Regions from separate parts of the Homo sapiens genome. Here region 2 is linked to region 1. The links come from fine-mapping of genetic effects on gene expression. A gene starts in region 1. The other region holds a variant in brackets. All regions are shown on one strand. Distances are from middle to middle. Region 1 holds the start of LDB3 (LIM domain binding 3). Region 2 has its middle 10 kb from the start of OPN4.

The links.
Region 2: its variant is fine-mapped to the expression of LDB3 in breast (GTEx, PIP above 0.99).

What each region holds. Positions count from the first base shown.
Region 1 is chr10:86,663,415-86,671,740 of GRCh38, reverse strand. It overlaps LDB3 (LIM domain binding 3), which reads right to left and starts at 3,230. Exons shown (of 14, transcript NM_007078.3): 1 at 3,171-3,230; 2 at 2,957-3,072. The coding sequence starts at 3,049. It overlaps OPN4 (opsin 4), which reads right to left. Exons shown (of 10, transcript NM_033282.4): 9 at 7,939-8,082; 10 at 5,281-6,028. The coding sequence ends at 5,990. LOC105378409 (a long non-coding RNA gene) reads left to right here and starts at 5,192. Exons shown (of 3, transcript XR_001747526.2): 1 at 5,192-5,510. RefSeq lists an enhancer at 3,050-3,099.
Region 2 is chr10:86,639,981-86,648,306 of GRCh38, reverse strand. No RefSeq gene overlaps it. Among named protein-coding and RNA genes, the nearest start is that of OPN4, 10 kb to the left of the region's middle. RefSeq lists enhancers at 2,513-2,682, 4,854-5,093. The variant C/T (reference allele first, on the strand shown) is at 3,701.

The sequences.
Region 1 (8,326 bases):
AAAGCATACTCCTCTTCCCCAAGGCGGAGGCATGAGAGGCATGAAGAGGTGAGACCCCAGACCACAGCCCCAGCCTCTGGCCAGCTGCCAGGGCAGAGGCCTTTGGAGCTGCTCCCTCTCTGGGCTGCTCCCCCTTCTCCACTTCCTGGAGAACTGGCTGGGGTGGGGTGAAAGGGCAGCTCATGTTGCAGGCCCAGCCACACCTGTCCAGGATAAATAAAGGCATTTCCCCGCCACCCTCCTTTCCCAGTCTCCCTCTTGAACTCCCTTCTCTGTGGGTCTGCAAGCAGAGACCCTATGAAGGGATGCCTTGAGGGGCTGCTGCTGCCCCAAAGTTGCTGCCATGAGCCCCCGGGAGCCACCACCCAGCCTGCAGGTGGCCTGTGTCCTTCCAGGAGGAGCTGCAGCACACACCTGCAGCTGAGAGGGGACAGACCCTCCCCAGTGCCTCTCTATTAGTCCCAGTTAGAGGGGTGAGCAAGCCAGCATGGGAGTTAGGGGTGACAGGATACAGGAGATCCACCCATGGACATCCCTGTCCTGTGAGCAGACTCGAGCCTCAGTTTGCCAGGCTCTGAAGCGAGGTAACGATCCCAGCCTCGCCTGCCTGCCCACCCCACAGGGTCACACACTCTTGCCTCTGGTGCCCTATGGCACAGGCTCAGGTCCTGGCTGGGGTGGGAGTGGGGTTCCTCCAGAGAGCTCTGGCCATGCCTCCCCCGTAGGGGGATGTCCCTGGTGCAGAAGGGCCCTGCGAGCCCCGGCAGTAAATCCTACAGCCCTGGTGGGATGGCAGGGCTGTGTCCACAAGGCCTGCCCTGCCAGCGGCACTGAACCAGGACACAAGCCCAGGCTATCAGCAGCCTACCACCAAAATTTCTCAAGAGGCTCCGAGCCCTGGGGAAGGCTCCAGTACCCAGTCCAGCCTGCTCCGCGGCTTAGGTGATTTGGGGTATGCCCCTAAAGGAAGCCGAGAGGCCATATCATGCCCATCCCCCGGTGCCCTGCCCGAGCTTCGGGTTCTATTTTTAGAAGTCCCCACAGTCATTGGATCCAGCACATCCCTGCATACCCCCTCCCCAGAGTAAGGACATTCCTCCTGCTATCTAGCTTAAGGCTTCTGGGCTGCCATTTAAGCCCCTGGCTGGCCGGGGCCAGGTGGCACATAGACCCTGGGTGAGGTCATTGGCTATCCTGAGTGCCACTGAGCCCAGTGGCCAATTTGCACCCATAGGGATAGGGCAGGGAGCACCAGCAGGAGGCCTCGAGATGGTGGAGCTGGGGGAGATGTGGGCTCAGTCCCAGGCAGGGGAGGCCACAGGGCCCATGAGAGAGCACACAGAGGCTCCACCTTATACAGGAAGGAGTCCTGCAAGCATGGGGGTGGGGAGCTGTGGGAAAGGGCAGTGGGAAATCCACTGGGGCTCACATGCTCACAGGTCACCACCTCATGCAAAGTGTGCAAGGCTGTGGGTGCCCAGGACCCTGTGGTCTCCAGGGCAGTAGATCTGGAGGGGTGGAATCTCCAGGTTAGAACAAGCCACATCTGCAACTGAAGGATGGAGGTCAGGGCCTGTTCCCTGCACCAGAGCCAGGCCAGCACCCCTCCTGTAAGCATGTGGCCTCTATGGCTATTATAAGGCTCTCACGGCATCCCTGGGTGGGGCTTCTACTTCTGGGGTCCCCTCAAGTACCCGTGGAACAAAAAAAAGATTACTCCTCCACTGGGGGCATTGGCTCCTGACCCGCTGCCCAGGTTCCCTGGCCCCTCTGCCAAGCCCCTTCAGGCCTTGCCCACTTCAGTGCTTCCCCTCCAACCCCTTCCTCCAGCCCCCAGGCCCAAGGCAAGTCCTTAAGGCCCCAGAGAAGAAACTGTCCCCTTGTTCCCCTGGTGGGCAGTAGCCCAGATACCCCTGCCTACCTACCACCCTCCAGTGACAGACTGGGGGCCTCCCCCTCTGGCCTTGTGCCCGGAACAGCACGGTCAGGGGCTCAGCCACCAGGCAGGGTTGTCCTTGCCCTGTATGCCTCACAGTTCGCCCTGAGCCTTGGGGCCTTCAGCCCTGGGTCTACCAGTGCCTTGCTGGGGAGTCTCTTTGTTTGACAGAAACTGACGGAGTGCCTACTACGGTCTGGGGGCTGTTCCCCCATCAGTCCCTGCTCCTGGAGTGCTTCCTCAGGAGCATGGCTAACTTTCTGCCTCTCTGGTGTTGCTGTCTCCAGCCAGGCGGTAGAGTTACTCAGACAACCCCTGATGTTCTGTGTCATCTGCATCAGGCCATGCTGCTCCCCATCACAGACACTGCAGGATAGGGGGCCATCTCACCAGGCCCCAGCACTTGTGGGGAACAAGACCTGAGACAGACAAAGCAGCCATGGTGAATGGGGAGAAGCGCCCAGCCCCATGAGCCAGGGTCTTGGTGTCTCAAGTTTGGGATGGAGCAGGTGCCCAGTACTCAGTCCAGCCCAGCCCCACACTCTGACAGCTGGGCAGCCAAGGTCAACCGTCTGTCTGTCCATCTATCCAACTGCCCATCACCTGCCCTCTCCATGCTGGGAATACTCCCTTCCCAAAGCAGCTGCCCATATCTAGGGAAATGCTCAAGGCTTGGGGGCACCCTGAGCCCACTCTAACAGTAAAGGGATCAGGAAGGTGCTGTACTCTCTGTCCAGCTACCTGCCTGCCTGCCTGCCTGCCTGCCTGAAAACTCAGCATTTTCTTCTCTGCTAAAAACACCTACCACCTGCTCATGATGTCTCACATGCATAACAGGCCGGCGCGCTCCAGTGAGCAAACAGCTGTGGCTGAGACCAGAGGACCAGGCCAGTCCCAGGGGATGGGGCATGCTCTGCTTTCTGAGAGGCTCAGAAAGGACAGACAGACAGACGGACACACATGCCCTCCTCCAAGCGTGCCTGCCCCATCGGGTGCCAGGCTGTGGCAGGGTGCACTCACCCGGGAGATAGTGAGGGGCATGTTGAAGTCCTTGCCCCCCTGCAGACGGAAGCCCCAGGGCCCGGGCCCAGTCAGGGTCACACTGTAAGACATGCTGGTGCTGTCAGCGGCCGCCTCTGCAGACAAAGGGTAGAGAGGGTTGAGTGAGAGGGCACTCAGGCACTCCGCCTGCCCGGTCCACACCTCTGCCCCTGCCCCTGACCCCCAGCCTTGCCTGTTCTGTCCCTTGCTGCCCAGCCGGGCTGCGTGGAGCTCTTGAGAGGCTCCTAAGAATAGCTGGGAGCGAATGCCATCGACACTGATATCTGCCTTCGGCTGCGCCCATAAATGGACTGTAACCCTACACTGTGCCTGCCAGCCTGCCGCCTCCCAGCCGGTCCACCATGACTCACACGGCTAATATAGCCCCTGGGGAGGGGTGTCCGGCACCCAGCACCCCCCAGGGGGGAGGAAGGGGAACTGGCCTGGTTGGTGAGAATGCTCTGGTCTCCTTGCTCCTGTGTCCTCTGGAGAGCGTAGACACTCGCTCTTCCTGCCCAGTGGTACCCATCCTCTTGCTCAGAAGACCAGGGGCTGAGCTCCCTTGGGTAGGGGCTTTGCTGCCGTGTGGTCCCTGGCCAGGATTCTGGGGTTGTGCTTTATCCAGTATGGGGCCCTGGAGGTGCCTTGGCTTGAGCTGAGCCTCCAGCTGGTCTGTGACTGGCCCAGGGTTGTCCAGCCATAAAAACGATCATCATAACAGCAGCTCTGGGCATAGCCAACCTCAGTATGGGCCCTTCACTCCCTGGGATCCTGAGAAGCTGCCACCTGGGCCCGCAGGAGACAAAGCTCAGGGAGGTTAAATGACTTCTCCAAGGTCACACAAGGAGTGGACCCAGGTCACACTGGAGCCTGGGCTGATTCCTACAGAATGCATGCCAGATAATGGGCTCCCAGTAGCCACAGAAGCCTCCCAAAGCCCTGGTCCTGGGCAGCTGGCCCTCTGCCTGCACCCCTTGGCATAGGGTCTGAAAGCAGGTCTGAGGCAGGCCCATCCCCTCCAGACCCTCTGGGGGCCCAGCCAGTTATTCCTGGCTCTCCTGTCTTTGTGCTCTGGAAAACTTGACGGCAGCATGGAAAGCTCCAGCTGCCAGTGCCACACGCCAGGCCCCGTGCCCTTTGCGCAGGAATGGCAGGGGGCAGGGAGAAGGGAGGAGACGCCATTTGCTCAGCTGCTAGACACAGGGCCAGGAGGGGCAGGGAGGGGGAAGCACGTGTGGCATGTTCAGCCTGTACCCCAGAGACAGTGTGTTCTGGATGGGGGCCTCAGCACCTTGGGACTTCTGCCAGTGCGGTCTTTGGGCCAACCCCTTCCCCAAGAAAGACCTCAGGCCCCTATGTGGTCTGGAGATAGATCAAGGCCCACCCTGGCTCCTTGGTTGGAGAAACTGAGGCTCAGGGGAGGCAACTGGGTTGGCTGCTTGCTGGCCCTCTTGGAGGGGTCTGGCTTGGACCCTGAGGAGTCAGTAGAGGCCTGGGTGTGAGTCATTTCTCAGCTTCTAGCCTCACTCCTGGGGCCTGGCACATGCAAGGTACAAGGTAGGATCACCCATATTACGGGGTTGTTTTGTCACTTGCCCAAAGTCACAAAACTATCAAGTGGAAGAAGTCAGGAAAAGACCTGTGTCCTTTTCCCTGCTTAATCACTTCCTTCACCCTATATCATGCAGCCCAGCCCAGGAGGCCAGCAGTCCATGGCCAGCATCCCTTCCCCATACCATTCCCTATCCCTCTCTGCAAAGCCCCATGTCATTCATCCCTAACTCCAGCCTTATGCCCTTTCCTAGGGGTGTTTGTCCATCCTGCCAGGCTGGGGAGGACTCAGCAGCAGGGCATAACCAGTGTGGGAGAAGGAAGGCACCCACCCTCAGGGCCAGGGAGCTGGGGGAGGCTGTACCTGGAGCTGCACGCTGTCTCTCTGGCCTCTGGCTCCTGCCTGATGAAGCTCGCCTCTGGGGAAAGGGAGGGGTGGCAGGAGAGTGCTCTTAAAGGCGAAGGCCGGCCTCCCTCCATCCGCCTCCCTCGGGAGATGTGAAGCCAGTCAGAGAGCAGCTGGTACCCATGGTCTGGGCGGAGTTCAATGGCTCACTGGGGAGTGAGTGGGGATGGAGGCCAGCCTGGCCTTTGTCCCTTCTCTGCTGTACTCCTTGCAGTTTGAGGTGGGCCTCAGAGTGAGAGTCCCAAGAGTGGGGACAGAGGAAGGAGAGGAAGTGAAGTTGCTGGAGGCATCAGAGGCCAGGCCCTGGTTCTCTCTCCCATAGCAGCACCAACACGTAGAGACCATATTTGTCTGAAGACACCTTCTCCGCTTTTTATTTTCCTATACCCTGTCAGATCCACACAGCCCTGGGAGGAGCTTAGACCACTACATGAAATGAATCACAGACGCAGAGTGTGCACGCATGTGCTTGGTGTGCATTCAGATAGGTAACTACGCGAGAGCGTGCCTGCAAATGCCCGCGTGCACAAGAATGTGGGCCACAGTGGAACGGTACACTGGGGGAAGAAGCCACAGGTGAGTAACTGTTCCAGCGTGCAAAGGGAGGTCTGTGCTCGGCTTCAGCTGTTGGCAGTGGGAGATGCGGGGCTGGCCTTCCTATGCCAGTGACAGGCCCAGCCTGGGGGCAGAGGCTCATAAATAGCTGGTGTGTTCTCTGGAGCCATCACCATTGTCATCGCCTGGACAATTGCAGCACACAGCATTTGAGGAGAGGCAGACAACTCGGGAAGTGGGAGGGCCTGGGCACATACCCCTCAGGCTGAGCCTCGGGTGCGGCTGCTGAGCTGGAAAGTGGATGCGGAGGACGTTATGGGGCAGGAGTTTTGAGGTGTGGAGAGGGGCCATGGGGCTGGGGCTGTGAATCCCGTGCAGCACGGGTGACAGGGCCACTTCCAAAGCCTGCAGGCTCACAGCATAATCCTGGGTCTGTGTATATGAGGGAGACGTGGGGGGGCTGGATGTGTCTCAGAAGAAAGGGAGAGCCAGTGGGCGTCCTACATCCTGGGGTCCTGGCTGGGGATCAGCCCCTTGGTCTGCAAACAAACAGCACACATCTGTTTAGCTGAGGAGCAGTTCACTGGGGGCAGTCTCCCGATGACCCTCCACACACTGGGTCACCGAGCAGTGGGGGAGGTTGCATGGAAGGGCCAGGTTGTGTCCTGGGTCAGGGATGGGCCTTCCCAGAGTCCACATCCCAGAGTAAGAGCTGGTAACGCCTAACGCTGCCTACAGAGCATCTCCTGGGATGCTCCCCGGGCTCTTGACTCCCGGGGTCACAACTGAACCCATCCTCACCCCCACCATCCAATCCGCTCCTCTCTTCCACATGTGGAGACTCTGGCATCACCCCCGCTCCTGCTGTCCTTAAATGGGTCATCCCTTTCCTGCCCTGCAGCACTTCCTTCTTTGGTCTTCACCCTGCAAAGCTAACCAACCCCCTCCCAGGGCTTCCTGTCCCCAGGTCAGGTCTGGAGACACCTAAGCCAGTCCCTGATGGGGCCTTCCCACTGCTCCTACCACCTCCGCCTCCTCTTCCCTTCTCCTATGTCCCCCACTGCCAATCCCCAGGGTCCCTCTGGCTGCTCCCAGGGTCACAGAGAGACATCCTGTTCCAGGACATATTGAGCTCCCTCCCCTGTGCCCCTGTGTTTGCACAGTCACACAGGCTGTATCCTCATCCTGGACAGCTCAGTGCTCCCCCCACTCCCCACCCCTGCTGCCTGCAGATCCCTGCTTCACCTCTATCTTCCTGGGGAACCTCAGGGACTTGCCTCTGCTTTCAGTACCCTGCGTGCTCACACCTCAATGGCAGCGCTTATCACATGTGTTTGGTGATTGTTGATGGCTGCCCAGCAACCCCCCTGAGCCTATCCCTCCAAGACAGGCACTGTGTCTTTCATCAGTGCCTGGCCAGCCTGGGGGTCACTGCCAGGCCTTTGTCCTGGCGTTTATGGCATGCACAGTGCCTGGGCTCCAGGACAGGGTGCGGGGCCCCCGGGGGGAATGCTGAGGGAGGCTGAGGCTCCCCGACTGCAGGTACAGCCCAGGGCTTTCGTTCTTGGATGCACAGGGGCACAGCACTCAGGAAGAAAGGCAGGCAGGAATGTGCCTTTGGCCTTGGACTAGCTAGGGAAGCTGGAGAGAGCCCAGGAGCTGAGCTGAGGGTGTTGTGTGGGTGTGACAGGAGGGGCAGATGGGGAGCTGTCAGCTGGGGCGAAGGGCTGCTTGGGAGCCTGTGCACACGACATTTCCAGTGTTCCAGAATATGGCCTTCTCTAATCGCCATCAACATTCCGTTCCATAGGCACTTGGGCCGACAGCTGGCCTTCTTTTAATAGCCACAAGTATTCCGGGTGACATCCTGATCTTAGGGCATTTATGGTGAGCACATCCACAGCTTACAGCCCCTTCCTCCCCAGGTATGTCCAACCTCGCAGTCACACAGAGAGGTACATACCACCCACACTCAGTCACATGCACAGCTTAAAGCAGACACATTAGGGCATGCTTAGTCACGTGTCACTGGGTGTTACAGTGACAGAGCATGTGCCAGGTGCTACAGTGATGGAGCATGTGCTGGGCACATGGCCACACACATGCTCGAGCTATGCTCTGACGGCTGCAGACCTCCTACCCTCATCAACACACACATGTACTCTTATCATGCCACAGCACAGCCAACAGCACCATGCAGAGTCAGAGTTGCATGATCACACACACACACACACATGTGCAGACCATATGCAGGCCCTGCTCAGAGCATCTCAGAGTCACAGAGAACCCCAGGCAGACAAGGAAAAGCTGGGAGGTGCTGGGAGCAGGTGATTCCTGGAGGATATCGCCCCTGCCCATGAGAACAAGTCTCTCTTTCCTGGCCTCTCCCTGGGCTACTGGCCCCTAACCCCCACCCCTTTGTGGATTGGCAGGTACCGGGCCCAGTCACCTTCCCTGGAGTCTCTGCTTCGTGTCCCTGGGGTCTGGGGGGTGCCTTGGCTTCCAAGTCCTCCAGACCCTGACCGTAGAGGGACCGCCCATTTGCTTGCTGGGCAGCTCCCCACACAGCTGCTGCCTCCATGTGTGTCCAGCCCTGAGGGAGGTGAGAGAGTGACTGTGAGGTGAGAGGGACAGTCCGTAGCTTTGCTCCTGCCCTTACCCCACCAGGCCCTCCTTCATCCTCCCAACAGGTATTCATTGCGGGAGGCCCCTGACACCATTTGCACCGTTGCCGGTCACCAAATAAACCCCGTAAATTGTGCATGCCTGTCCTAGGGTGTGTGTATGTGTGTGCAGGTTTGCTCCCCATCTGCACACCGGCACACCTTGCTAAGAAA
Region 2 (8,326 bases), 23 kb after region 1:
TTTATGTGAAAATTTACTACTCCCGAGAGAGGCATTTGGATGTAAAAAAAAACCCCAGCCAGTGGGTGGTCCTGTATTTCACATGCTTTGGGCACACCCAGCAGAAATCGAGAGCTTGCTACTGGATTTTTAAAAAGAAATTCTTTCCTTAGCACCTTTGACATGTCCTTGTTTGCACACAGAGCCCTCTAATTTGGGGTACACAGAGAGAGGCACAGAGACCCATGGATTATATACTTTCCTGCCCTTTTGGTAACTTGTTGGAACCGCACTTTTCTTTCTCAAAATATTATAGCTGATCATAATCAAGTGTCTGAGTCATTCCCTACAAAGTGGGGCATTTGTCTGAGGGATAGAGTCACCCACTTTGATTTACGATAGCCCAAGGCAATTTCTGACCTCGCAGAGAGGAGAAGTGTAAAAGACAAATGAAGCAGGATGGAAATCTACAGGAAACATCAGAGATGTTCTTAGTGAAGACCCATTCAGGCATAGAGATGTGTCTCTGGGTCTGTTCTGTGACTGCCCCACAACCCCTCGCTGATCTCAGCAGTGCATGAGTGGCACCACAAGAGTCTGAATGAAAACCCTGCATTTGGGCCAGATGCGGTGGCTCACGCCTGTAATCCCAACACTTTGGGAGGCTGAGGTGAGTGGATTGCCTGAGGTCAGGAATTTGAGACCAGCCTTGCCAACATGGCAAAACCCTGTCTCTACTAAAAATACAAAAATTAGCCGGGCATGGTGGTGGCACCTCTAGTCCTAGCTACTTGGGAGGCTGAGGCCAGAGAATTGCTTGAACCCAGGAGGCAGAGGTTGCAGTGAGCCAAGATCAAGTCACTGCACTCCAGCCTGGGCGACAGAGTGAGACTCTGTCTCAAAAAAAAAAAAAAAAAGAAAAAAAGAAAACTCTGCATTCGAATTTGTGACTGTAGACATGTCAGCACTGCAAGCAAACTCCCCAAGCTGTAAAAACAGTGTAAATTCCATCTCCCATCAGGCCCAACACGATCAGGTCAACCTCGGTGGGCATCCCAGCCTTGCCAATATTTGCTACAGGGAACTGGGAAGTGACAAGGAACCACACAGCTCCAAGATTCAGTTTCCTCACCCGTAGAATGGAGATACTAATACCTGCCTCTCAGGGCTTCCGAGTGGCTTCATAAGAAGGCATGCAGAGTACTCAGCTTATGCCTCACCCAGAATCCAGGCTCCAATCTTACAGGGGCTGCTGAGGCAGGACAGGCAACATCCTGGTGCCCATGGGGCTTCCATGTTTGCACAGCACACCCCCCAGATGATTACCTGGGAATTAAAAAAGTTATGCCGCCTGGATTATTAATGATAGCCCACCCCCAGAGACTCCGATTTAGTTGGCCTGGGATATAGCCTAAACACTGGGATTTTTTAAAAATGCAGTGTAACACAAAGCCATAGCCAGCCTCAGCCACATACCTACATGGATCCACATGTGTTTCCCATTCCTCCGCCTCATTCGCTCCAGCTCCCCCGGCTCCTAGCTCCATCTCTGCTCTGGATGTTGTTGTTATTTTGTGGCTGGGCCAGGGAGCAAACTCTCCCCTCTTCTACGACCTGCAGGGTGGGGGCCCAAGCTGGATTCAGGCCTCTGCCAGGACCTAAGCCTCTGAAGAGTGTGGGGAAGCAGTGGTGATGAAGGATCCAGGCACCTGGTGCCGAGGGCAGACAGGCATAAGAGCTGAAGCTATGAGATAGGAGGGGCCAGGAGGCCTGGGGTCTGTGGGTAGAATTCAGGGCAGTAACCTCTAGCTGAAATGTAGGTTTTCCCTCCATTATGAACAAGGGCAAAACCCCCACAGTAGTCTTCCTGGGGCTTTGTGACCATTGGGAATCATCACTCCTTCTATATGACAGCAGAGTTGCTGCAGATAACTTGCAATATTGGTTTTGTTCATCACTACATCAAAATCACAATCCTGCGTAGACCTGCCGCCAGATTCTGTGGTTGGTTCATTAAATGAAGAAGCACATAGTTTACCTGATTACAAATTTATTGTTTAATATTTTGGTAACAACAGTTTAATGTCACTGGCTTACTTTACAATCCTATGTATTTTATCTTACGCATTAAAAGCACTCCTAGGCCCAGCGCGGAGGCTCACTCTTGTAATCCCAGCACCTTGGGAGGCCAAGGTGGGCAGATCACCTGAGGTCAGGAGTTCAAGACCAGCCTAGCCAACATGGTGAAACCCTGTCTCTACTAAAAATACAAAAATTAAGGCAGGTGTGGTGGCGCATGCTTGTAATCCCAGCTACCAGGGAGGCTGAGGCAGGAGAATTGCTGGAACCTGGGAGGCAGAGGTTGCAGTGAGCCGAGATTGCGCCATTGCCCCCAGCCTGGGCAACAGAGCAAAACTCTAGTTCAAAAAAAAAAAAAAAAAAAGAGCACTTCTGGGGTTGGGTGCAGTGGCACATGCCTGCAATTCCAGCACTTTGAGAAGCTGAGGTGAGAAGATTACTTGAGGCCAGGAGTTCGAGACCAGCCTGGGCAACATAGTGAGACCCCATCTCTACAGAAAATTATCTGGGTATAGTGGCACATGCCTGTGGTCTCAGCTACTTGGGAGGCTGAGATGGGAGGATTGCTCAAGCCTGAGAGGTTGAGGCTGCAGTGAGTCGTGATCATGCCAATGCACCAATGCAACCTAGCCTGGGTGACAGAGCAAGACCTTGTCTCAATAAAAAGATTTAAAAATATAATAAAATAAGAGCACCTCTAAAAAGGACTCTATAGGCTGCACAGGACTCCAAAGGGGTTCCTGGCACAGAAAAAGTTAAGAGCTATGAGCAATGAGATGAGGGGTGTTCAAAGCCATGATTAGGGCAGCAACGGTGGGGATAGAGTCCTCTGGCTCTCCCCAGGAACTGCCTGGGGGTTTTATGAGCTGCTCCTTCCTAGGCTCTGCCCTGCACCAAGTCCCTGGCCCCCTGCAGGCCTGGTTGTTCACTCTGCCTGGGTCCCCCAAGCCAGCCTGAGTCTGAAAGAACTACCTGGTCCTTGAGGCCTCACCTGTCCATCCAGACCCCTAAGCCCCGGCACCTGGCTGCAACTCTGGCCTTCCCATTTCCTTAGGTAAACTGCAATTCCTCAGAGCCAGAAGAGCTGACCAACACTCTGTGAGGGTGGGGACTCCTTGGGAGACCAAGGAACCCCAGAGTGTGGCAGCTGCCCCCACGGCACAGCCTGAGTGGGCAAGTGACTTTTGGGGCAGTGTTTCACTGGAGGGACAGGAGCAGTCTTTGCTGAAGGCCTGGTGGGAAGCTGCTGGGCCTTCCTAGGAGGTTGGGGCAGAGAGCACGGCATGGGAGACAGAGCCCAAGAAGCAGCTGCCAGGGTGCAGGGCGACTTCCAATGCTTGGGGCTGCCCCTACATTTGACACTGAGAGTGGAGGCCCAGAGCTGGGCCCCATTTCCAGCTCCAGAGTGCAGATGCTCTAGCCTGGTCCTGTCCTCTGCTCTCTTCATACCAAGAGGGCTGTGGTCCAGAAACTTCCCAGCAGGAGTCCCCACCAGGAGTCTCAGCCTCTTCCTGGTCATCTAAAAGCCTCCTAGAATCCTAGTTCTGGTAGCAAAAACTTCACAGCTTCTCCCCAAGGACCAGAAGCCTACGATTTCACACGAGTGTGAAGAGACATGCGCCCCCGCCAAGGACTCTGTGTC[C/T]CCAGCAGGGGACAGGGGCGAGTCACCACATGATGAGATTGATGCATGAGAACTCCTGTCAGGACAAGGGAGTTTCTGGGTTTGTTGTGGTTTTAATTTGTGATCTACTTGATGCAAGCACATTCTTTAAAAATGAAATAGCACTGAAAGGCAGTTTCTGGTCCCATCCCTCCTGCTTTCTTGTGTGAAAATAAATATAATTTAAAAGCTGTTGGAACCCAAAAAAACCCACTTCAAACCTTAAGAGAAATGTGAATGTGATCTTAGTCACATATGGTTCCAACTTCTGTTTCTCAGATTATAGATTAACTTGTTTTCTTATTTTTTTGTTCTGTACAATGACTAGAGAGAATTAAATTATATCAGGGACAAAAGCCTCCTGCCTTCTTAATTAATGACTCTTGTTATAGATTAACTTCCCCTTTGTTGTCCTACTTTGCCTAAACCAGATGACAGAAAACCCATGACTGTTACACCCATTATATTCAAAATGCTAAATGTACCCTTTCCAAAAAGGATGCATTGCCTATCATCAATCAAATTGCTGGAAGTATGTGCCAACTTCATATGAAAAATGTTGTAATCCTGCTAAAAACATCTCTGTCTCTGCATCTATAAATGAAACCCTAATTTCTCTACTTCAGAACACTGCCTCCATCTCTTCGCAGTTGATGCTCCTGAGTGGGCCATCCTCAAACTTTGTATTTGAATAAACTCTCTTTAAATTAGACTCTGATCCTTTTGATTATTTTAAGTTGACATTTTGGCAACTGCAGATAGGACCTGAAACAAGCCTCGTGCGATCCTCGTTGCTTTGCTGGCATTCGGAGATTTAGTACCAGCATGAGTGGCTTTTACTCGTCTGACCTCATCAGAGCTGGCGGGGGTCTCTGGTAAGACTTCTCTCAGGTTTCATATCTTCCTAGTTCTGGCTGAGATTCAGACTTTATTCAAGCAACCCAATTCCACACTCAACAGAGCTAGAACTGAAGCTCAACTTTTGGCTTTGAGGTAGTCACTTTATTGTTATTTCTCTAGAGATTCTGTTATTTGCAAGTTTGTAGTTTCACTTTCTTTTGAGGTTAAGATTTTGTCTGTTTTGCTTGCTAAAGTTTGCAACTTTTCTCCCATTCAAAATTTGGGGCTGGGTGCAGTGGCTCACACCTGTAATCCCAGCACTTTGGGAGGCTGAGGCGGTTGGATCACTTGAGGCCAGGAGTTGAAGACCAGCTTGGCCAACATGGTGAAACCCAATCTCTACTAAAAATACAAAGCATTAGCTGAACGTGATGGTGCATGTCTGTGGTCCCTGCTACTTGGGAGGCTGAGGTACGAGAATTGCATGAACCCAGTAGGTGGAGATTGCAGGGAGCTGACACACTGTACTCCACTGTCCAGCCTGGGTGACAGAGTGAGATTCTGTCTCAAAAAAAATTGGTTAAATAGAAAGCAGTTTCTTTTTAAAAAGAGAAAGTGAATGCTTGTGGCTTAAGCTAAATGTGCAGTTTTAAACTGACCAGGTTTTGGAGCTGGGTTAAAATTGCCATTTAGATTTTCTTTCTGAGTGACCAAAAATTCATTAAAGGCTTTGTCTGAGGATGTGATTTACTTGACCTGAGAAAGTCCTAAATAACGGCCACTGTTCCTCCCAGCTGAAAGGCACCTTAGGTAACTGAGGCCACACAGGACTGTCAGAGGTCATAGCTTCTGCTGTGTAAGGGTCCTACAGGGAAACCCCAAGGAAGAACATACAGGGAAATCTGATTAACCTGTTGGGCATACATGAAGGGTTGGTATCCCAGGGCCCTAAGCCTCCAGAAATGTCTGGGTTTCACTGAAACACATAAGAGAGTAGAAGTGACTCATGGGTGACACCTCGAGGAGTAATCCCTGTTAAGCAGAATACCAGATCCAAAACATCTTTCCCAGCTGGGCACGGTGGCTCACGCCTGTAATGCCAGCATTTTGGGATGCCGAGGGGGAAGGAGCCCAACATGAGGAGTTTGATACTAGCCTGGCCATCGTGGTGAAACCCTGCCTCTACTAAAAATACAAAAATTAGCAAGGTATAGTGGTGGGCACCTGTAATCCCAGCTACTTGGGAGGCTGAGGCAGGAGAATCATTTCAACCTGGAAGGCGGAGGTTGCAGTGAGCTGAGATAGCGCAACTGTACTCCAGCCTGGGTGACAGAGAGAGACTTCATCTCAAAATAAACATATAAATAAAATTTAAAAATTAAAAAATAAGACATCTTTCTCTTTGAGTCTTTGGTCACTTAAAAAGAAAATCCAAATTATGGTCCATCTTCCATCTAAAACTGAGTCCTCTTTAAGAAAGAATCCATCTTTAGAAACTCCAGCTGGATTTATGTACAATACTTATGGCACCACCTCCTGTCAATATTTGGAAAAATGGTCTTACTTGACCCAAGAAAATCCTAACATTTGCAATGGACAAAATGTAGTACCTTTGAAATGCCTAAACTAATTTAATTGTGTGCTCAATGAGAAAAAGTCAGCTATAAGATAAAACAAAATAATTGGGAGAGTTATTTTCAATGAGGCTTGGAAGCTTCTAAAGAGGTTATAATAAAGTTATTTCTTTACAAGAGAACAAAAAGTTGTCTTAAAAAATTCTGAATTAAAGACTGCTGAAATTTATCCTCCTCCCTCAGCTCCTCTGTCTCTTTATTCTTTATTATCCTTTATTATCTTCTCCTTCTCTTTATCCTTTAGTACCTTGCCCAGATCTACCTCCTCCTCCTTCTGCTTCTACTGTTCCAGCTCCATTTCTCAAACAGCCAGTGTCTGGTAGGGGAGAACCTACCCTAGTTTCTCAATCATGGTCAAAGGTAAAACTTAAAGACATAGTTCAGGAATTTCCTGATTCTCACCAGGACCAGGACATTGGTTTTCTCAGGAAATTTAAATTAAATATTTGTGCTTATGACCCTGGCTCTACTTTGGGAAAAATAATTATTTTAAATGGAGTATGAACACAAGCTTTTGTTGACACTGGAGCCACATTATCTGTAATAAATCTCACCTTATTACAAGATTCATTCCTTGGAGTAAACAAAAAATTCAAATGGTGGGTGTCACAAATACTCCTGTATTGGTTTATAAATCTCAGCCTGTAGCTTTTCAGCTACGTCACTTACAAGGGACTTATGTTTTCCTTTTGGTTGAATCAGCTCCCATCCATCTTATAGAAAAAGACTTAAAATTATATAATACACTTCTTTCTCCCAAAAAGGGAAAATGTATTTAGAATTAGATGATAAAACTGAGTTACTGGACATAAAAAGTTTTTCAAAATCTAATTTAATTGCAATCTATATTGCCATAGTAGACACTGAATTATTGAGTAATGAAAATTACAAAACCTGCTAAAGGTAGTACCTGATCAATTGTGGTTAAAATCTTCTGCTGATATTGGAATAATCATCTTGGCTTCCCCAATCAAAGTTCAAATAGATCCATCAAAACACCTTCCAAACCTTAAGCAATACCCTCTATTTATTTATTTTTAAAGTATTTTAAATTCATCATATATGGATTGAGTGACTTTGTTAAGTTTAACAGATGTTTATGTAACTTAACTGTGAACTGTTCTTTTTTTGAGCCAGGGTGTCACTCTGTCACCCAGGCTAGAGTGCAGTGATGTGATCTGTGCTCACTGGAACCTCTGCCTCCTGGGCTCAAGCAATCCTGCCACTTCAGCTTCTTCAGTAGCTGGGACCCCAGGTGCACAACACCATGCCTAGTTAAATTTTTGTATTTTTTGTAGAGATGGGGTTTCGCCATGTTGCCCAGGCTGGTCTCAAACTCCTGAGCTCATGCAATCCACCTGCCTTGGCCTCCCAAAGTATTAGGATCACAGGCATGAGCCATCACATCTGGCCAGTACCCTTTAAAAGTAGAAGCTATAATAGGAATAAAACCTGTAGTTCCAGGCTATATAAAAAGAGGTACATGTAATACTCCAATCCTTCCTGTAAGGAAACTAAATGGTAGAGGATAGAAGTTTGTATAGGATCTGAGAACAATTAACAACATAGTCATTCCTCATTATCCAGGAGTGCTAAACCTCCATACATGTTGATGCCATTCTTACCAAAGGCACGTTCTTTACTGTAATAGATTTATGTAGTGTGTTCTTTAGTACTTCTGTGGATAAAGACAGTCAATTTGTTTTCATTTTCACTTGAGAAAACAGACAATACACATGGACATCCTGCTCCAGGGATACATTGAGATCCCAACACACTTTTCACAATATGTAGATGATTTACTCCTCTGCTCAGAGGCTAGGCAAAGCCTCTATAGATGATGGGCTGCACTTTTTACAACAATGAGCTTAAAGGGACACAGACCTCAAAAGAAAGATTTCAGTTTAGAGAAAAACAAATAAGATACTTAGGTCATTTAATATCAAAGGAAGGTCTTTTCATCCATCCAGGCAGTATAAAAAAATATTGGCTTTCCCTACCCCCATAACTTAAAAAACAACCAAAGGGATTTCTGGGTCAGAAGGATACTGTAGGAATTGAGTTCCAAACTTCTCCCTAAAAATTCAACCTTTATATACTCTTTAAAACAAGACAAGTCCGGCACCCTGGAGTG